2 separate regions of the Homo sapiens genome follow, and region 2 is linked to region 1. The links come from fine-mapping of genetic effects on gene expression. A gene starts in region 1. The other region holds a variant in brackets. All regions are shown on one strand. Distances are from middle to middle. Region 1 holds the start of DLG1 (discs large MAGUK scaffold protein 1). Region 2 overlaps DLG1 (discs large MAGUK scaffold protein 1).

Region 1 (9,754 bases):
CACACACATATACACCACTCTGTGCCCAGTGTTTTTTGTTTTGTTTTGTTTAATTTAGAAAAGGAGCCAAGTAGAGAAAAAGCAGCATAGATTAATCGAAGAAACAATGAACTAATGTTCAGCCCAGCTCCAGCCAGCTGTGGGGTCCTAAACCAAGTTATCTCAGTTTCCTCTTCCTCTGTGCTCTCCTTTGCAAAGTGGGAGACCATAACCAACGAGTTTATCTTATCGGTTGCTGTGGACCTGCAGTGAGTTAAATCTGCCTTTGAACACTGTATGAGAGGCTATACCACTCTCCGGATAGACCAGTTTACACGGGAGGCAGTTATTAGTCCTATGCTGATTTAGTACTCCATTATACCACACTCCAGGAATCTTAGGGTGGCTCTTCCATTAAAAAGCATTAATTCAGTGCCTAACTACCTATCATGGAGATGGTCAACTGTCCACATTTTAAAGGGAATTGGTTTCAACCTGTAGCTTTTATTCTGTTAAGAATTATCTATGAGAAAGAGATCAGTCTTGGTACCACCAAAACTGGGTAGAACGAATTCTTGATGTAGACTAAAGGGTGCTAATACCATTTCAGTATTCAGCAGGGACTGAGGTTTCAACAGCTTAGAACTGTGGTCTCAGAGGTCACGTGGTTCAACCTTATGTCCTGGGTATCTACCACCCTCTGACACAGAATCCTTGCTGGCTTCATTCAGCACCTTCCTGATTAAAAAAAAAAAAAAATTTCCACTACCTTGAGGCAGCTCTTTGGAATTTTGGACAGTTTCTGACAACTCATGTTAAGGAAAAACTTCCTGTGTTTGTCCATTGGTTGAATTTTCATCCATTGACTGTACTTGCCCACTGGGTACACAGAATAAGCCTGTTTGATGACTGCAGCTCCCTGGAGACTTCTGTTTTTCCAATGAAATGGCCCTAGATTGTACAGTTGTTTCCTGATTGCTGTGGTTACTCTCTTCTTTCCACATGCTGGTTTGTTCAGATTCCTTTAAAAGCGTGCTGCTAAGCAATGCCCCCTAGGCTCTCATGGAGGTCTGACCAATATGTCCACTTTCAACATACTTGACACTGTTCCTCTTCCTGCAGCCTAAGCTGGCATAAGCTTTTTTGACAGCATTAAATCCTTTCCTTTTAGTGATTGCCTTGGCACAGGCAGCATGCTGCTACCCTGCTGGAGTGAAAGCAAAAGATGCAGCGGAGTCTGGCAGGACCTGGACACCTTCATAGATTTATAAGCTGGGGCCTAGATGGAGGAGAAGACAAAGACAGAGATGTGAAGCTGCAAAGGTGGCTTGGGCAGGATGGTTGGGAAGGGAAGGGTTGGAACTTAGAGACAGTATCTTTGACATTGACTCTCTGACATTTCAATAAAAGAATGGGAAATCTGAGCCTTTCCCCATGGTCTTTGACTCCGAAGCCTTTTAAGCTCTTCAAAAGGCAAGTTAACTTGGAGCTGGAAAGTGAACAGCTTTACCTGCTAGTATTTTGTTGAAGTAACTTCTTCTATTCGTCTATCTAACTATCGATAGACAGACAGATAGGACAGATATAGATAGATAGATAGATAGATAGATAGATAGATAGATAGATAGATGATAGATAGATAGATAGATATAGTGTGTGTGTATATATATATATATTTAATGAGGAAGTTGGAAAATTAGATCCAATATTGTGTCCTATTCAATGGCAGCTGCTCACTGCACAAAGTAAGGAAAACTTTGAGGAAATAAAAGTTGCTTAGAAAAATCCAGATGTCAGGGCTGGGTGCAGTGGCTCACACCTGTAATCCCAGCACTTTGGGAGGCTGAGGCGGGTGGATCACGAGGTCAGGAGATCGAGACCATCCTGGCCAACATGGTGAAACCCCGTCACTACTAAAATACAAAAAATTAGCTGGGCGTGGTGGCACATGCCTGTAGTCCCAACAACCCAGGAGGCTGAGGCAGGAGAATAGCTTGAACCCGGGAGGCAGAGGTTGCAGTGAGCCGAGATCGTACCACTGCACTCCAGCCTGGCAACAGAGCAAGACTCGGTCTAAAAAAAAAAAAAAAGAAAAGAAAAATCCAGATGTCATTGCTTTGTATGTTGTGATGATGTGGTAGCCAGCTCCAAGAAGATGGCCTCCAGTGAGTCTTACTTTCTGGTATTCATATCCTTGAGGCTGATCTAAGTAACTGATCGGATATTATGGAGTATGCTATGGTCTGAATGTTTGTGTCCTTCTTAAATTAATACGTTGAAATCTTCACCTTCAAAGTGATCATATTAAGAGATGAGGCTTTTGGGAGGTGATTAGGTCTTGAAAGTGGAGCTCTTCTAAATGGGATTAGAGCCTTTATAAAAGATGCCAGATAGAGCTTGTTAGTCCCTTGCACCATGGGAAGATGTAGCAAGAAGGCTCCATTCATGAGGAATGGGGCTATTACCAGACACTGAATCTCTTGGTGTTTTTTTTTTTTTTTTTTTTTTTTTTTTTTTTTTTTTTTTTAAGACAGAGTCTTGCTCTGTCGCCCAGGCTGGAGTGCAGTGGCGCGATCTCGGCTCACTGCAACCTCCGCCTCCCGGATTCAAGCAATTCTCTGTCTCAGCCTCCTGAATAGTTGATTACAGGTGCCTGCTACCATGCCTGGCTAATTTTTATATTTTTAGTAGAGACGGGGTTTCACAATCTTGGCCAGGCTGGTCTTGAACTCCTGACCTCGTGATCCACCTGCCTTGGCCTCCCAAAGTGCTGGATATTACAGGCATGAGCCACCGCGCCTGGCCATTTTTTTTTTTTTAATTTTTATTCTCATGACTGTTAGATCACATCTGATGGTGTTTTGATCTTGGACTACTTAGTCTCTAGAGCTGTAATACATTCCTGTTGTTTATAAATCACCCAGTCTAAGGTATTTTGTTATAGCAGCCCAAACAGACTATGACAGAGTGTCACTTTTGAGACTAAGTGATGAAAGGCATTGTGGCTTCTTCTGTCTCGCCATCTTGAATCACTTGCTCTGTTGGACGTCAGCCGCTACGTCATGAAGACACTCAAGCAGCCCTATAGAAAGGTCTTCATGGTGAGAAATTGAAGCCTCCGCCCAATAGCCAGCATCAACTTACTAGCTATGTGAATGATCCATGCTGAAAGAGCCTCCCGTAGTCCCCCTGAAGCCTTCAGATGACTGCAGCCCTGGCAGGCTTCTTGACTGCAACATCATAATGCCCTGAGCCAAAACCACCCAACTATGCCGCTCCTGAATTCCTGACACACAGAAACTGAGATAATATTTATCGCTGTTTAACTTACTAAGCTAATAAGTTTTAAACCCTTAAGCTTTGAGGAACTTTTTTTTTATCCAGCAATAAGTAACTAATAAAGATGGGTAGAAAGGAGGAATGAAGAGTAAAGAGCCTTTATTCATTGTTCATATATGTTCATTTGCTAGGCACTTGCTGCCGGCACCTTAGGCTAAGGGTAGAACAAGTGCTGGGTTCACTGCTGCTTTTGTACACCGCTGACAACCAAATAGGGCTGTCACACAGAATGACAAGAAAAAAGGACACGTCCTCTTTCCTCCCCTTCCTCCTTTTTGCTTTTAGGGGAAGGCTAGGATGACATTGAGAACTCACACAAATTTTGTTTTTGACTCCTCAGTGTCCCCTGGGAAAAGGTGCATTGGCCTTTGTGTACTTGCTACAAGGCTGTGTATCCTTGAGAGCAGGACTCGGATCTTATTTATTTCTATCCCCGTTTCCTAGCAAGTGAACATATATGAACAATAAATGTTATCAAGGGAGAGGGCAAATTTCCCTCCCTGTTTCTTCTGAATTCTGAAGAGATTCCATTGTTAGAATGGTTTCTTACTGCAACCATCCCATTCACAGTCCATCAGCGAAGTCTTGAGAGTATGATGCCTGTCATGAGCCACTTTCACTACTAAATAAATTCCGTCCCTCTGTTAAGTTCCCGGCTGTTAGGACACCTCTGCCTTCAGCACCGTTTGACCCTTCTATCCCATTTTCTCTATGCAATGTTGCTTTAACTGTTGTTCAAGATCCCAGGATGCTTGATCCGGGAAAGCACAGAGGTCTGCTGCCAACATACCAACATACCTCTCTGTCAAGTTGTCCAAAATCACAAGAGAAAGAGCCCTGGACTAGAGCTAGGAGACCTGAGTTCTCGGCTGCTCTGTTACTGATTAGCGTCTATGTCCTTGGACAAGTTGCTTCCCTTTTTCCGGACCTCGGTTCCTTGTCCTAGATAGGTTCTAAAGTCGGTGGGTCCTTACAGTAAGTTAGGATTCTAAGGTGCAATCCAAAAGTAAAACCAGTGGTCAGTATACCTCTGAGTAGCTGTTAAGGTTACAATACGAGGTTCCTCGGCCTTCCCTTTGGTAGCCAATGGATACGGCCTCAGTCAGAGGCCGTCAGGTTTACTGGGAAGAGCCTTCCGGTTTTGAAAGACAGGATCTCCGGGTTTCCAGTTCTGTCACTCACTCGGGGTAACTTTGGGCAAATTCTCTCTGGACCTCCTAATAGGGAGGTCCTCGTCACCCCGAGGAAGTTCGAAGACGTGGGCAGTGACTTGGAAAGCTTCCCGAGATTCCCCTTCTATAACCTGGGTGGCTCAGACCGGGAGCGGGGTCCCAGCCGGCCGGTAATTCCGCCCGGAGGTGCGCACGAAACAAACCTGCAGCGCTGGCCGAGGGCGGCTCAGCTTCGGAGGGCGCGACTCCGGGTGAGTTCTTAAAGGGACCGTCAGAGTTTGGGTAACACCTGCGATGCTGACCGGGCGGGGACGCAGGCTTGAGGGAAATGAATGAATGAATGAATGAGCGAATGAATGAACAAACCTTCTCTGCCCACCCTTAAGTATACCATACTCGGAATTAATCAGTTAGGCTTAAAAATCTTGTACTATAACCCTCAAACTCTTGCCAAGTTAACCAGTGTCTCTATTTCATATGTCCTTCTGTAATGAAACCCCTCCCCCCAAGCCTATTACTAAGGGACGAAGAGTAACTTAACAATCAGCCTGGAGTGGAAGGCAATGCAGAGTTGGCACCCCTCCCCGAACTCCTCCCTCTCCCTCTCCCAGGCCCCGCCCTCCCCGCCCCCTGGGAGGTGCAGTTGGCTCCTCCTTAAGGCGGCTTTTCCCCGGTGGGGATCTACCCCCGGGGTCGCCAGGCGCTGTCTCTGCCGCGGAGTTGGAAACGGCACTGCTGAGTGAGGTTGAGGGGTGTCTCGGTATGTGCGCCTTGGATCTGGTGTAGGCGAGGTCACGCCTCTCTTCAGACAGCCCGAGCCTTCCCGGCCTGGCGCGTTTAGTTCGGAACTGCGGGACGCGCCGGTGGGCTAGGGCAAGGTAAAGGCGGGCTCCTCCAGGGCCACCCCGGGCCACCTGTGGAGTCCGAGTGTTAACTCCTTTGTTCTCAGAGCCACTTCAGCGGCCGCCCTTTTAAGCGAAGAGGTTCCCTTAGGATGCTCCCCGGGTACCCCTTCCGTTCCCCTGCCCTCCCCCGACCCGCCTCCCCCTTCCAACCCGAAGGTAGCAGCGCGGGGAGCCCGGGGCTCGGCGCGAGCCGCCTCCTCACTTCCCATTGGCTGAGAGCGCCGGGAAAGCGGTCACGTGGGAGCGCGGCAGGCCAGCTCGGGGGCCGCCATCTTGGCGGAAAGTTTCGGGGGAGAGCGGTTGGGGGCGCGGAAGGAGGCGAGGTTCCGGGGGTGGGGCGTGCGGCAGCAACTGGGCGAGCGGGCCGGGGGGCCGCGGCGAGCGAGGAGGCGGCGCGGCCGAGAAGGAGGACGAGGCCGCGGGGGTGCGGCGGCCCAGGGGAGCTCCTCCCCCGTCCCTTCGCCCCCTCCGCTCGGCTCCGCGGGCCCCGGGCGGGGCGGGGGTACGTGGAGCGGGGCCGGGCTGGGGAGCTGCTCCGAGTCTGGCCGGGGCGCACCCCAGTTCCGAGCGCACGCCGCTCACCGGAACTTTGTGGCGGCGCCGCAGGTGTGGGGGCCCGCGGAGGTGTGCATGCGGGGCGCGAGGGCGTCGCGGAGAGCGGCCGCTGCCCTGTCCGGCCCCCGCTGGAGCAGCCCGGAGGCAGCGAGCAAGGAGAAAGGCAAGCGAGAGGAGGGGGCCCGAGCAGGGCGGGCGGCCAGTCCCGCTGGTCCCCTCTCAGCGCTCTGCGGCCGCTGCTGGCTCAGGGGCCAAGGGTCGGAGCGCTTCACCCGCCCGTACCCAGTAGCAGGTGGGGAGTGTGGATACTTGTGCGGGGGAAGAGGCGGCCTCAGGTCTAGGCTCTTTGGGGAGGGGACGCTTTCGAGGAGAGTTTGGAAGCCGACTTCTGTCTGTTCTTAATTTGGAGGGGTACCCACTCCAAGGAAAAGCTTTCCACGTTGACAGACAACTGCTGCGTTTTGAGACTCTTTCTTTGACTTGGTAAAACTTTGGAACGTGGGGTTTTCAAATAGGCTGCGAGGGTTTTCTATTTCGATAGGGGAAAATGCTAGTTTAACATGATTCTATCCTTTTTCCTTTCCGTTGTGTGTTTTAAAGGTGTGTGCCCTCTTCCTGATTCTGGAGAAAAATGCCGGTCCGGAAGCAAGGTGAGAGTTTATTCCGTAACTCTGTTGTCGATGTCACTTGCTTTTCCGTGTGTCAGTTTTTTGATTGCCGTTTTAGAATCGTTTGTGTAACTTTGATGAGACAGCACGGTCCTAGCTTTATTGCTTAGGGAATCTAAGCCTCATATCATTTCAGAAGATGGAAACACGAAAATGTTTGTTAAACTTTCTTAACATTTCTCTAGTGATTAAGAGAGGCAGTTAGCCCCCCCCCAACAGATGTCCTTAATAACCCTGAATTGGTGTTTTAGTATTTCACTCTATCATTCTTACTAAGCACTATTCTGTAAGCAACTGTGGGATACTAAGAATTTGTATTTTGAAATGTTAAAAATTTGGATTATGATGACAAATTGTAGATAATCTGCTTTTGCATTATCAGGTAATCTGAAACTGTTGCTAATACTTTGATCTTTTACTTTGGCAAACTACCAGTACACATTTATTCCAAACTGCTCACTCTCCTCCGTTTTCTAATGTGATATATGTTTAAATTTTTCTTGTATTTCTTTAATTTTTTTTTTTATTTTTTGGTCATTCTAAGGAATATGTGTACATGAACATAGTGACATCAATTGACCTGAAGGATTTGCGGAACTATTTAGATGTCATGCAGAATTATTTGCACTAGTATGTGATACTTTTTTTGTAAATAGAGAGTTTTAATCAGGCTCTGCTTTTTCTTCTCAGATACCCAGAGAGCATTGCACCTTTTGGAGGAATATCGTTCAAAACTAAGCCAAACTGAAGACAGACAGCTCAGAAGTTCCATAGAACGGGTTATTAACATATTTCAGAGCAACCTCTTTCAGGCTTTAATAGGTGGGAATTAAAACTTCGTAACTATTATGCCAGCTAGGCTTTATGCTCCTCTCAATTCATTTATTTTAAACTTAAGAAAATGATGTACTTAATTCTCTGAGGCATTCGGTAACTTGAACATCTTCAGTGAGTTGTGTGTTTTTCATAGGCCAGTGTCCTTTCTTAAAATAACTAGTAACCAAAAAACTTTCAGGATTATTTCAGTGGCTTTTGAGAACATTGTTTCACATCTTAATAGCATTAACTATTAAAAGATGTTGCACAGATGTTTAAGGACCTAAAAGGTATGACTGAGTTACTGTGAGCTTGTTTCTGTATTTGACTGGCATGTCTCTGAAGTCATTGAAAGCGTGTGAAGGGTTCTGCTGTGTTGAAGAACATTCATTCCCTTAATGTAGATTTCTGTTTGAGCTTGGCATTCATGGAGTCAGAATTTTAGACCTGGAAAATAATCTTAGAGATGATCTTGTCTAGTAACCGTATTTTACAGGCAAGAAAATGGAAAGTTTTATTCTTAATTGTAACTTAATTTGAAGTGGTGCATTGTTTGAAAGAACTGGAAAAATAAGAGTCCTGAGTTCTTTTGCCACTAATTGAATGATATATCCCAAGTCATTTAATCTTTTCTATGCCACCATATTAGCTGTAGAATGTAGCTGTTGAAATGACAGAATGGGTTTAAAGCCTTTTTTAAGTAGATAAATCATTTTTAAAAGCATCATCTCATATTTTGTGTATAATCTCCTATGTATAAAACAAGGTGACTTGTCTGGCTCTTTTGTCCAGGTACCTCAAAAAGTTTGCAAACCACCGAACTAGAAAGTTTGTCTCTTCCAATTCTAAGAATGAAGTTTTTTTTTTTTGTTTTAGTTATCAACTATATAACATTTTAACATAAGAAGACATATACTTAATTATATTACATTTATTTCTTCAGTAACTTCCAGTCAGATATGGCCTTACATCTATCTGTTGATAGAATAATTGTTGGTGTGATTTGAAGACTACTTTCAAGTCAGTGTGTCCTGTCAGGTACATTATTGATAAATGGATGCTCTCTACGGTTTTAGAATGAAAGATTTTTGTAAAGACCACTTGATGCACCTGAACAATTTTGAAAAATGTAACATTTTAATAGACTTTTAAAAACATAAGGATACATAGCACAGTGTAATGAACTGCCTTTTAACTGTTACCCAGCTCCAGAAATTCACATTTTGCCATTTTTGTTTACATTGATGGACATTTTTTACACATTTGAATTTCTGAGGTTTAAGGTCCGAATGGATGATCAAATTGGATTCCTCTGGAAAAACAGCAAAAAGCATTTTTTAGTTATTTGTTTTCTAAATCAACATTGAGCCTAGTAATTTGGTGCAGTTACTGTTGCAAAAAAAGTATGTTTTTTCGCAACAGTATAGAGATATATATATACATATATGTATAGATAGGCAGATAGATAGACTGCAGACTTTTCTTTGTGTGATGGCTGTAACTTAAGAAAATTAAATCGTTAGTGAAATAACAGAATCTACATTTATATTTCTGTCTAGATTGGGGATGGGTTTGCTGTGTTCAGAGACATTTTTGACCTATTCTGCCTTGCCTGTTTTGAATGTGTCTATTCTTACGTACAATTGAACTTTGATAGAGTTAGCTTTCTTCTCTTTTTTTTTTTTTTTTTTTTTGAGGCAGAGTCTCACTCTGTCACCCAGGCTGGAGTGCAGTGGCGAGATCTCCGCTCACTGCAAGCTCCGCCTGCCAGGTTCACGCCATTCTCCTGCCTCAGCCTCCTGAGTAGCTGGGACCAAAGGTGCCCACCACCACGTCCGGCTAATTTTTTATTTTTTGTATTGTATTTTTAGTAAAGACGGGGTTTCACTGTGTAAGCCAGGATGGTCTCGATCTCCTGACCTCGTGATCCACCCACCTCGGCCTCCCAAAATGTTGGGATTACAGGCGTGAGCCACCGCGTCTGGCCTAGAGTTAGCTTCCTAATTACTAAGTTTATATTTGTGAATCTTCTAATTTCATTGGTTGTGAATTTACTTTGACATTTAAATTTACTTATATTTAATGTTCTATAGGATGTGGTACTATATCACATTTTGGTGTAAGACAAGTAATAGATTTTAGGAGTTTTGAAATAGATAACGTTTAATAGAGGTTCTGTGTGTTTCCATGCTATAATTGTTGATACTACGGAATAAATACATTCTCTTGTGTTTCCTGAATAACTTTTAATACTTAGTCTGAAAATGTTTAGTCTGATAAGATTTTCTTTGTATTTTGCAACTCTACCATTGTTTTGAAA
Region 2 (10,125 bases), 120 kb after region 1:
AGGAAGAAATCACTGAGAAAATGAGCATCATTTCTCAAGGTTTTTATTTTCACTGATCTACAAGTGATGCTGCTGTAATTGTAGCTGCAGTTTTTACCGATCATTCACCACTCAGCAGCTGGTAGAGAAGTAAGCCTGCTTGGCAACCACCTGCAGGGCTGCAGAGATGAATTACATTTTCGGAAACAACACACTTCTATACTCTCGCGGCAGTCGAGGAGGCAATACTAGCTCTAGCCATGGCTCAGCAGGCCCAAAGCAGAAACACTGGGCAAAAAAGGGCTCGTCAGATGAACTGCAAGCTGAGCCAGAACCTTCACGCTGGCAGCAGATAGTTGCATTTTTCACTCGAAGACACAGCTTTATTGACTGCATCTCGGTAGCCACCAGCTCCACCCAGGTAACATACCACTTGTTGAAATTATTTTCAATCTATTTCTGTTTACGTTTGCTCTGTAAAAATGTCTTAATATAGATTTTTTATTTAAAGAATAGCCTTGAAACCTTGGATGTGTAGAAATGTATGTTTTCTGTCCATCCGTGTAGGTCTTTAGCACAAAAGGGGGAACAAGAAATATTTTTCCTTATGCTCTTATGTAATACCAAACAAAATAGCCTCAGATTCAATTGAATGACTTTTCTAAAAATATAAGCCCATTGATACATAAAATATGAATTAATAATGCTCATCTCCTTTTTAGACTGTGCTAAATGCTGTAGAGTATGATGTCTGACCAAAGAAAATGCTGATTTGTTTAGTTTTTGTATGTTATTAGATAACCTTAGGGAGACTGTTACAGTAAAGAAACAGAAGATACTTTGAAATATTTTCATTTTTCAGTGTTTTGAAAATAGATTCAATTTAATATAATTGGCTAGTATTATATATACTGACATCTTAGCTATATTATGGCTTATTCAAGGGATTTAATGAATCGTTTTTTGTAAATATTATTTATCTAGCTTAATTTGAAATTAAGTGAACTTGTGCAATTACACAGTCATGGAATATTTTTTCACATAGTCAAATCACAATTTAAAGAGATGAGCAAATACTAAAAGTCTCTCAAAATTAAAAAAAATCACATAACACCACTTTTTGAGGAAATGAGCTATTGTCTATGGGAGGAAAAATAAAGAAAAATTAATAATTGTTTGAAATACCTATTGTTTGCTACAAGGGTGGTTTGAGGAAATATTCATATTTCTAAATATTTTTAAGCAGTCAGTTCAACTTTAGTAAAAATAAAAGGACGAGAAATGGTCTAAAAACAAGTTGAGAATGCATTTGTCCTCTGACATCAGTGATATTTAAATTAGGAAAATACATACATACACATTCCTTAGGACCTTTTAAAATAAATTCCCTTAAAGCTGTCTTTTAAAGAAAATAATAGAAGCAGCTCAATAAATATAAACTATAACTGTCAACAGTTCTATATTTCTTTATATGTTTTTTATAAATTTCTTTACTGTTTTTGGTTACTAGAATTGTCTTTTAATGGTGTTGATTTAAAATAACATCAGCTTTCTTAAGTAAGAAATTCTACTTACTTTTCTCAAATATTTGGGAGAAATGGAATTACCTAGGAAGGGGGAGTCATTATGTAGGCATTGAGGTTAAGTTACAATCAAAACTTATTGAATGGGCAACGATTGATTTAACTCTTAAATTGAATACTGCCCCAAGAATTTTACTAACCTTATTTTGACTGCAATTACATATATCACGAAAGGATGCAAAGACTAAAGGTTGACAATGTTATTCATTGTAGATTAATACTAGATGATATTTTCCATTGTCAACAAGACAGATATCTTTAGAACTTTTTATATATATATATGGTTTATGTAAATGCACACCCTTCTATATATGTATGCACAGATAACACTAGCATTGATATATCTGTCACTCGGTTTATTAAAAGCAGGCAAATGAAAAGACAGGAAAAGTAGTTCATGTATAAAGTGTTGAAACCACAGAGTTACGTTATAGCCGCTTGGGAGTAGGAGCAGAACGTTGCTGTGATTGCGCCAGAAGAGAGTCATGACCCCTGTTCGCAGTCAGCTCTGCAAAGCCATTTTACATGACAGCCCCCACCCAGTTTGGTTCAGAGCATTCCTGTATGCTAGTATATGAGTTATTAATAGTTTTTATTTCTTTCAGACCTCTTTCCTGATTCTCATCTTGTCTTTTTCATTACCTTTCTATTTTATTTCTAGAAATAGGAGTATTAGGGTAGAGGTTTTAGCTTCTGTTTTTCTTGCACTGGAGTACCAACATTTTGTTTTTCATTTTATACATTTTTGTAACTGATACATTGGATAGTTTATATATCTTAATTTTTTTATAACTTACTGGAGTTGATTTGACAAGTTAAAATATAATGGGACTGAAAAATAACTTGAGATATAATTGGATCTTACTTGATACTAGAATACTTTTTTAAATTGCACTTACTGACTCATGGCTGGCAGCTTTCTTTTGCAGCACTAAGGGATTTATTGTTAGAAACAACGTAGATTGAAATTTCATACTTAGAGCATATAATATATACCTATGAATATAATAAGGTCATAGTGTTTTGTACTGCGATTGGTAAATAACAGAGGTCTCTTATTTCACTGATGTCAAAAATACTCTAAGATTTGACAGAAAGATTAACTTTGAATCTAATTCCATATGACTAAGCCACATGATACTTTTTGCAGATTGGAGAGTTGTTATAAATCAAGTTCTATTAGTATGAAAACTATCTGGTTTAGTATCCCCCCCAAATACAGTATGAAAAGTATCTGATTTAATATCCCCCCAAATATACACAATACATAAAAAGAACCTGTACTTATTTTACAGATTCATTTAAATTGCTTGTCTGCTGGAGGTATTCATGTTCATAACTAAGATTATGTGCCATTTTCTACTATGATACTGGAACTCAGGAGGAAGTCATTAATGTTTTTTGAATGATAAGGAAACTGAGTGGTTATAAACTTTTGCAAGACACCTAGCTTCTCAGTTAGGGTTTGGCATGTAGTTGGTGTTAATAAATGCTTATAGAATTAATTAATTTTTATTCCATTCACCTCAAATGTTATCTCCTGGCCTTCCAAAATATGACACCTAATCTAATACCTCTTCAGTACCTGTATTGATTGGATCTTCTCTCTTCCCTCACAAGTGTCTTTGGTTTTTCACAGCAGCCCATCTCCTTTTCCACTGCCTTTTCTTCCCCTCCATTCTTCATACTATCCTCCAGTCACACTGCCCCGATTCCCCTGATTTCCTCACCCCTTTCAGTCCCCACTCAGTAGTGATAACCAAATAGCTTACACACTGTCTCTCAGTTTTATCATTTCATTGTATCTCATTTTACATTGTGGGTTTTTTGAGAGGTTGTTTTATTTTTTAATGTTAAATAAAAATGAGTTTCTTATGAATTACATTGGTGAAACTTTTTCAGTTTGAGGCTTCATAGTGTTTTTGTCCTTAATTTCAAACGATTAGTATAGAAAAAGTTCTCTATGCATTGCGAAGCCCTCCTTGGTTCCGCACCCTCAGCGTCCCTCCTATTCTTGTGTTGAGGGTCACTCAATAATCGGCCCCGTCCTACTTAGCATACACAGTCCTGTTCCAATCTGGGACCAGTTTTTATATTCAGCAGGGTTTTATAGAACTCCAGCACAGTGCTGCTAGACTTTACTTGATTAACGCCTAGGTGAAAAGTTTTATTTACTTAGTGATATCGACGTTTATTAATGTCAGTAGTAATCATATGAACTTTAAATAACTGTGAAGTGTTCAGTCATTTTGAATGTGTGTATAGCAGCTATTCATACATTTTGGACTACTTGAAAATCTCAACATATAGAGCACTATAAATACTCAAAAAGCCCCCCCCCCCCCAAAAAAAAAACACAACATGCCAAATTAAGCTGAGAGCAGCAAAGCTGTATTCTTAGGAATATGGAACAGACATGAAAACTTGTCAGAATTGAAATAGAATAATAAAGTTTTCTTAAAGAGTAAATATTAGCTGAGTTGAATAATCTGCTTAGAGGAAAAACCCTGTCCTAAGTCAAAAATATAGGAAAACATTGTTCAAGTGCCTGTGTGGAAAAATATTTAGGCTAATTTGTACACTTTAAAAAATATTGTTTGTCTGAAACAGATGCCTTCTGAGTTATAGAGGATTTAATTTTTAGAGCTATGCATTGGATATATTGTCCAATAGAGAGAATAACAGTATCAGTGTCATTGAGTCACTTCTACCAAATAATTTAATGTATATATTAATAAAGTACTTAGGACAGCATCTGACACAGAGTAAGTGCTACATTAGAGTTAGGTGCCCCTGTTAGCTTATTTTTATATCATTTAACTCTAATAGTATATGAACAAATTCAGATATAGATTATTAGGAATTATTGCACCTAGGATAGCGCAGTACATTCAAACATTCAGTAAATATTGTTGACTGATTAAGTTAATTTGTAAGTACAAGCCATCCACTTTTTTTAAGAACCAGAGATCTCAACACCTTTAATTACAGGATTTAAGGGAGGTGCCCCAAAGAGCCTTTGAAATTCTTGATGAGACTACCAGTTTTTTGACCTTTCCTCCCCTCCTAGCACTCCCTTCTACAAATTGGTGAAAACCAGTCACGTGTAGATGACTAAATTTAAGTGATTATCCACTTGGTACCAAGCTCCCCTAAGCATCCCCCAAACATATCATGAGGACTATTTTTAGATCCTAAATCCCTTTTAGCCTGTCACCACAGAAAGTCCAGACCATCCGGATTGCAGCTCTGCCTTCTCTATACCAACTCGCAGACTGCACGTTAAACTTCCAATACCTGATTCCTGGTCTTATTCTCAAATAAATAATCTTGCTTTGTGTTCCAGCCTGCTAAAATAAATGAACTGTGTGCCTAAAGCTTACCCATATTCACTTCTGTACTAGATCGTAGTCCCTTTGGTTGTTCAAGAACTTCTGAAATCCCTTTCTCTCTTCACTGCATCATCTGTCTTGCCTCTGTACTGCCCCTAGACTTGCCTCTATAAGTCCT[A/G]TCAGGATGTACACCTGCTATAATATCTTTCATTAAAACAACCATCCAAAAAACCCTCGTTGTGTGAGTGTAGATTATCAAATCCAGTGGCCAGTTCTCAGTGTTCATTTTACTTGACCCTACAACAACTGTTAACACAATTGATTACTCCCTCCTCTAAATTCTTTTTTCTCCTTTGACTCGTGGATAGTACTGCTCTTTTAATATTCTACCAGCCTCATTTTCCTTTATAGTATCCTCCTTTTTCCTACTGCTAAATGTTCAAATGTCTCAGGGCTCAGTCTTTGAACTCTCTTTTTATACTCACATTTCAGGTGATCGCATCTAGTCCTATGCCCTTAAATACCATCAGTATTTCTCTTTATTCCAGAGTTAATCCCTGTACATTAGACTTTTATATCTAACTTTCTACTCAGTATCTCCACTTCGGTTAAGCATCTGAAAGGTAACATATTAAAAAGAGAATTTCTAGTTTTATTGGTCTCAATCTTCTTTATTCAGTATGCCATTCACTAAGATGCTGAAGACAAAAACCCTTAAAATTATCTTTTATTCCTTTTTTCTTTGCTCCGTATCCAGTCTGATGCCAAATCCTGTTGGCTTTTTATTCAAGATATATTTATGATTTGGCCACTTTTCAACACTTCTGCAACTACTGATTCAATAATATGTTGCCTGAACTACAGCAGTAGACATCTAACTTCTCTCGTTAATATTTTTTGCTTCCTCTAAGGTAGCACCCCTTCACTCCAGACATTACTCTGTCTTCTTACCTGATTCTTTATTATACATTTTTTACTGTCTTTTTACTTGACTGTCAGCTCCATGTGGGTGGGATTTTTCTGTTATGTTTATTGTTGTATCCTCAGTTTCTGTGACAGTGGCTGGCACACTGTAGATAACCAGAAAATATTTGTTGAATGAGTGAAGAGACAGGGACATACGAACTTGTGCTAAGGAGGGCCCAAGCAGGTGTGTTTGTCTGTCTTTTCCCTTAGACTTTCTGTGAAGCGCGCATCACACTTTATTTAGCATTGTAATAGTTCTCTAACTGATGATTCTTACTTGCCCTCTGAGAAGAAATACACACAAGGAAATGAGGTAGGGAGAGAAGAGAATTCAATTTCCTCAAAACTGGGATAACTATATAACTCAGACCAAACTAGGATACTTTAATGAAAAGAGGGAATCATTAATAATTAAAGTGAGACAACAGGCATAAATACAGACTTCCCAAGTAAATAGAGGCATATGGGGTCACTCTGTTATAACCATTTATTTTCTGACTATTCCCACCAGGCAACAGGTCTGAAATTCACACCAAGACATCTCCATCTTGGACCATCCTAGATTGATTGACCTAACCGTGTTATCGGTACATACCACATTCATTTTGTCTCATGTGTAATGATAATTGTGTTTTGATAAAATATTTTTTCTTCATCTCCAAGGAATGGAATTGTTCATATTCATTAGTGTAGTGCTTTTGTACTAAAAAGTAGACTACGTATAGGGTAGGTAGACAATCTTCTTAAACTGCTTTGAAAATACTGACTCTAATTGATAGGTTATTTTCCAGAGAAATTGGTGGAAATAGTCTCCTTTGGTATTGACTCCCCAAACATTCACAGTTTGGATGGAAACGCTGTTGTACTGGCTGTGAGATGCTGACCCTTGGCAGACACATTTGTTTCTTAATTTTCTACTCAAAAGGCTACTAACTTTGCGAAATTAATATGATGACTCAGACTTGGAAATCAATTGTTCCCCCTTTGACACAAAAAATATTGTAGGATCTATTTTATGTTTCTGTTTTTCTGGAAACTTTTACAGTGCACCTACATGTACTGACTCAAAAATTGGTTCTTAAACACTGTTTCAACACATTTTTATCATTTGTACAATAAATAAAAATAAATAAAAAATAATATAAAAAATAAAAATAAAATTTATATCATTTGTTCAATAGGACACTCTAGAAAAGCATAGAGATGAAGATTAAACCAAAAGTAGTTGGTTACAATGGTTATATAAGCTTTTTTAAATTACAAAATTGACCATACGATCCAGCAGTTGTACTCCTTGGTATTTGCCCAAATGAATTGAAAGCTTACATCCACCCAAAAACCTGTACAGAGATGTTTATAACAGCTGTGTTCATAATTGCCAAAACCTAGAAGCAACCAACATATTCCTCAGTGTGTGCATGGATAAAGTGTGGTGCATTCAGACAATGGAATATCACCCAGCACTAAAAGAAATGAGCTATCAAGCCATGAAAAGACATGGAGGAACCTTAAATGAATATTACCAGGTGAAAGAAGCCAACCTGAAAAGGATACACACCCTTGTTTCCAACTAGATGACGTTCTGGAAAAGGCAAAACTATGGAAACAATAAAAAGATCAGTGGTTGCCAGGGGTTAGGTGAGAGGGATAAATAATAGAGCACAGAGGATTTTTAGGACAGTAAAGCCATTCTGTATGATACTATAATGGCGGAAACGTCATTAAACACATGTCAAAACCCATGGAATATCCAGCCCCCACAGTCAACTCTCATGTAAATTATGGACTTTGTGATGTGGCAGTGTGGGCTCATTGATTGTAACAAATGTACATTAGAAATGCAGGGGTGTTGATTATGGATAGTTTATGTGTGTGAGCAGGGGGCATATGGGAACTAAAACTGCTCTAAAAAAATATATAAAGTCTATTAAAAACTATAAAATTGGTGTCTTAATGTAGATTAGATTGGCTTAGCTTGAAGACATTTGAAATTTATGATATAAGGTCTTTATAGTTAGGAAATGTGTTTTATTCTTCTTTGTAGCTTCTGTATAGTGTCTTGATTGTTTAGATGGCGTTTCTGTCAAGGATAGATAGGCAAAAAGAAGTTTCACAGGCTATAATTTATATATTCTAAATATATTCAGAGAAGTTTTAAAGTTAACCTTTAAAATAATGTGTTAATAACAGTGCTGAAAAGTGACTGAACCATGCTTATGGGATCAGGGCAAGTCAGCCTGAGCAACATTTTTCTCCTGTATTTTCAAGTAATGTTTGTTTGCATGAGAATTGTACTTCATACCTCTTATCACGACTCTAATTCAGTAGTCATTTGGATAATGATTTTGTTTAATGTCAGCCACTAAACTGTAAGTTTCACAAGAGCTGATGCTACAGGGTGTGTGGTTTTTTCCCTTGGTATCCCCAGAGCCTCGCATGGAGAATGCACTTGATAAATATTTGTTGAATGAATAAACAGATGTTATACAGGTGTTAATTTTTATTTAATCTGCTGTTGACGAAGTGGAAGTTTGGAACTTCTAAATATTGTTGGATCACTGTAAATTTCCCAAGCCATTTTTATGTAACACTATGGCTTAAAAACTAGCAAGTCTATGTTACCAGATTTTGTAAAGTTGTGAATTTCAGAAGTAATTCAGATCCTTCTGTGAAAAAATTGTGAAGCATTTATACTCTTACATATCTGAAGAACTTAAATTTTTATCATGAAAATTTTACTTAGTATCAGTCTCTTTAAATAAATTTTCTTAAATTATTCCTTGTACTTCCTGGCACTATTATTTAGATAACATTTCCAGCCCTCCATTTTTATAGCAAAGTTTAGAATTTTGATAAAGGTAAAAATAGTTGTTCAGACTATGTAGAGAACAGTAGCCTACAGTTACCACCTTTTAAAGAAAACTTTAAACCAACTGATGTGGTAATTTTAACAGGCGTATGCAAATACAAACCAACTGGCAGTGCCACCTGGGAGCAGTGGAATTTTATAGAAGCCTATACACGCAACTTGCCCCTCCAGGCATTTATTTAAAAGATTTTCCCTCCTCACTTCGTAACAGGAGCACTTCCTATTCATTCTTTTTCCTTTAAGCCCCAATTTGGTAGCATTTCTGAACAGTATTTTCAGTATCTGTGAAATCAAAACTCTGACTTCTTGACTGGAGCAGCTTTGAAATGTGAAGAAGTTACAGCTGTGACAGAGTGGAACCAAATGATTGCTTTACAATTTGTGTTGTTTTGTTGTTCTGAGAAAAAGAATTGGGGATTATAACCTGGTGTTTAATTATTTGTTAATTTTTTTTTAACAGCCACGTTCAAGAGCAATAAACTGGCATTTAAATTAAAACAGATCCCACCCTCATTTATCTGTATATAAATCTGACTAATCTTGGTAGGATGATCTGATGTATCAAAGGGTTATAAATTTGGAAAGAAATCAGTTGGAAAGTATTTTGTAAGATAGAAAGAAAACAAACAAGATGCATATCAATATTAAGAATTAATTGCTTTAGCCAAACTAAGTACCATAGCAGGATTTTGAAGGGAGAACAAAGAAAAGAGAATAAAAATCATATCATTTTAATCACTTTTTTTCCAAACTGGAAGGCTATATTCAGTATAGAGGCAAAATTTTTTCAGTTGTAAGAGCACAGCTTTATTATATAGACTTTTTAATTAAAGATATTTTAAAGAACTGTAGGTGAAACTTGAAATTTCCATATGTATATCTTGTTTCCTTGTTTTTTAAATTGTCGCTTCCATGGTTTTTGGGGAGAGAGAATTGGCTTATTTTTATTGTAGACTAAGAATTGCAACAGAATTAAACCATTTATAGTTAGTAAAAGTTAACTTAGGTGTCTTAAAGCCATTTTCTATTTTCTTCATTGACTTATTTAGCCTTTTCTTTCTCCTTTTTTAAAAGCAGCTAAAGCAGGAGTCAGCAAGCTACAATCTGTAGGCCAAATGTAGCCTGCCACCTGTTTTTGTAAATAAATGTTTTGTTTTGTTTTTGAGACAGAGTCTCACTGTGTCGCCCAGGCTGGAGTGCAGTGGCGCGATCTCAGCCCACTGCAATTTCCACCTCCCGGGTTCAAGTGATTCTTATGCCCCAGCCTCCTAAGTAGCTGGGATTACAGATGTGCACCACCATACCTGACTGACTGGGTTTCGCCATGTTGGCCAGGCTGGTCTTGAACTACTGCCCTCATGTGATCTGCCTGCCTCGGCCTCCCAAAGTGTTGGGA

The links. PIP is the estimated chance that this variant, and not a neighbour inherited with it, causes the effect.
Region 2: its variant is fine-mapped to the expression of DLG1 in skeletal muscle (GTEx, PIP above 0.99).

The regions. Positions count from the first base shown.
Region 1 is chr3:197,294,032-197,303,785 of GRCh38, reverse strand. DLG1 (discs large MAGUK scaffold protein 1) reads left to right here and starts at 5,174. Exons shown (of 25, transcript NM_001366207.1): 1 at 5,174-5,250; 2 at 6,551-6,600; 3 at 7,309-7,440. The coding sequence starts at 6,582. DLG1-AS1 (DLG1 antisense RNA 1) reads right to left here and starts at 5,539. Exons shown (of 3, transcript NR_038289.1): 1 at 5,176-5,539; 2 at 4,694-4,808; 3 at 35-1,258. RefSeq lists silencers at 4,998-5,127, 5,618-6,247.
Region 2 is chr3:197,173,850-197,183,974 of GRCh38, reverse strand. The region is part of intron 5 of DLG1 (discs large MAGUK scaffold protein 1); the gene reads left to right. Among named protein-coding and RNA genes, the nearest start is that of MIR4797, 120 kb to the left of the region's middle. The variant A/G (reference allele first, on the strand shown) is at 5,073.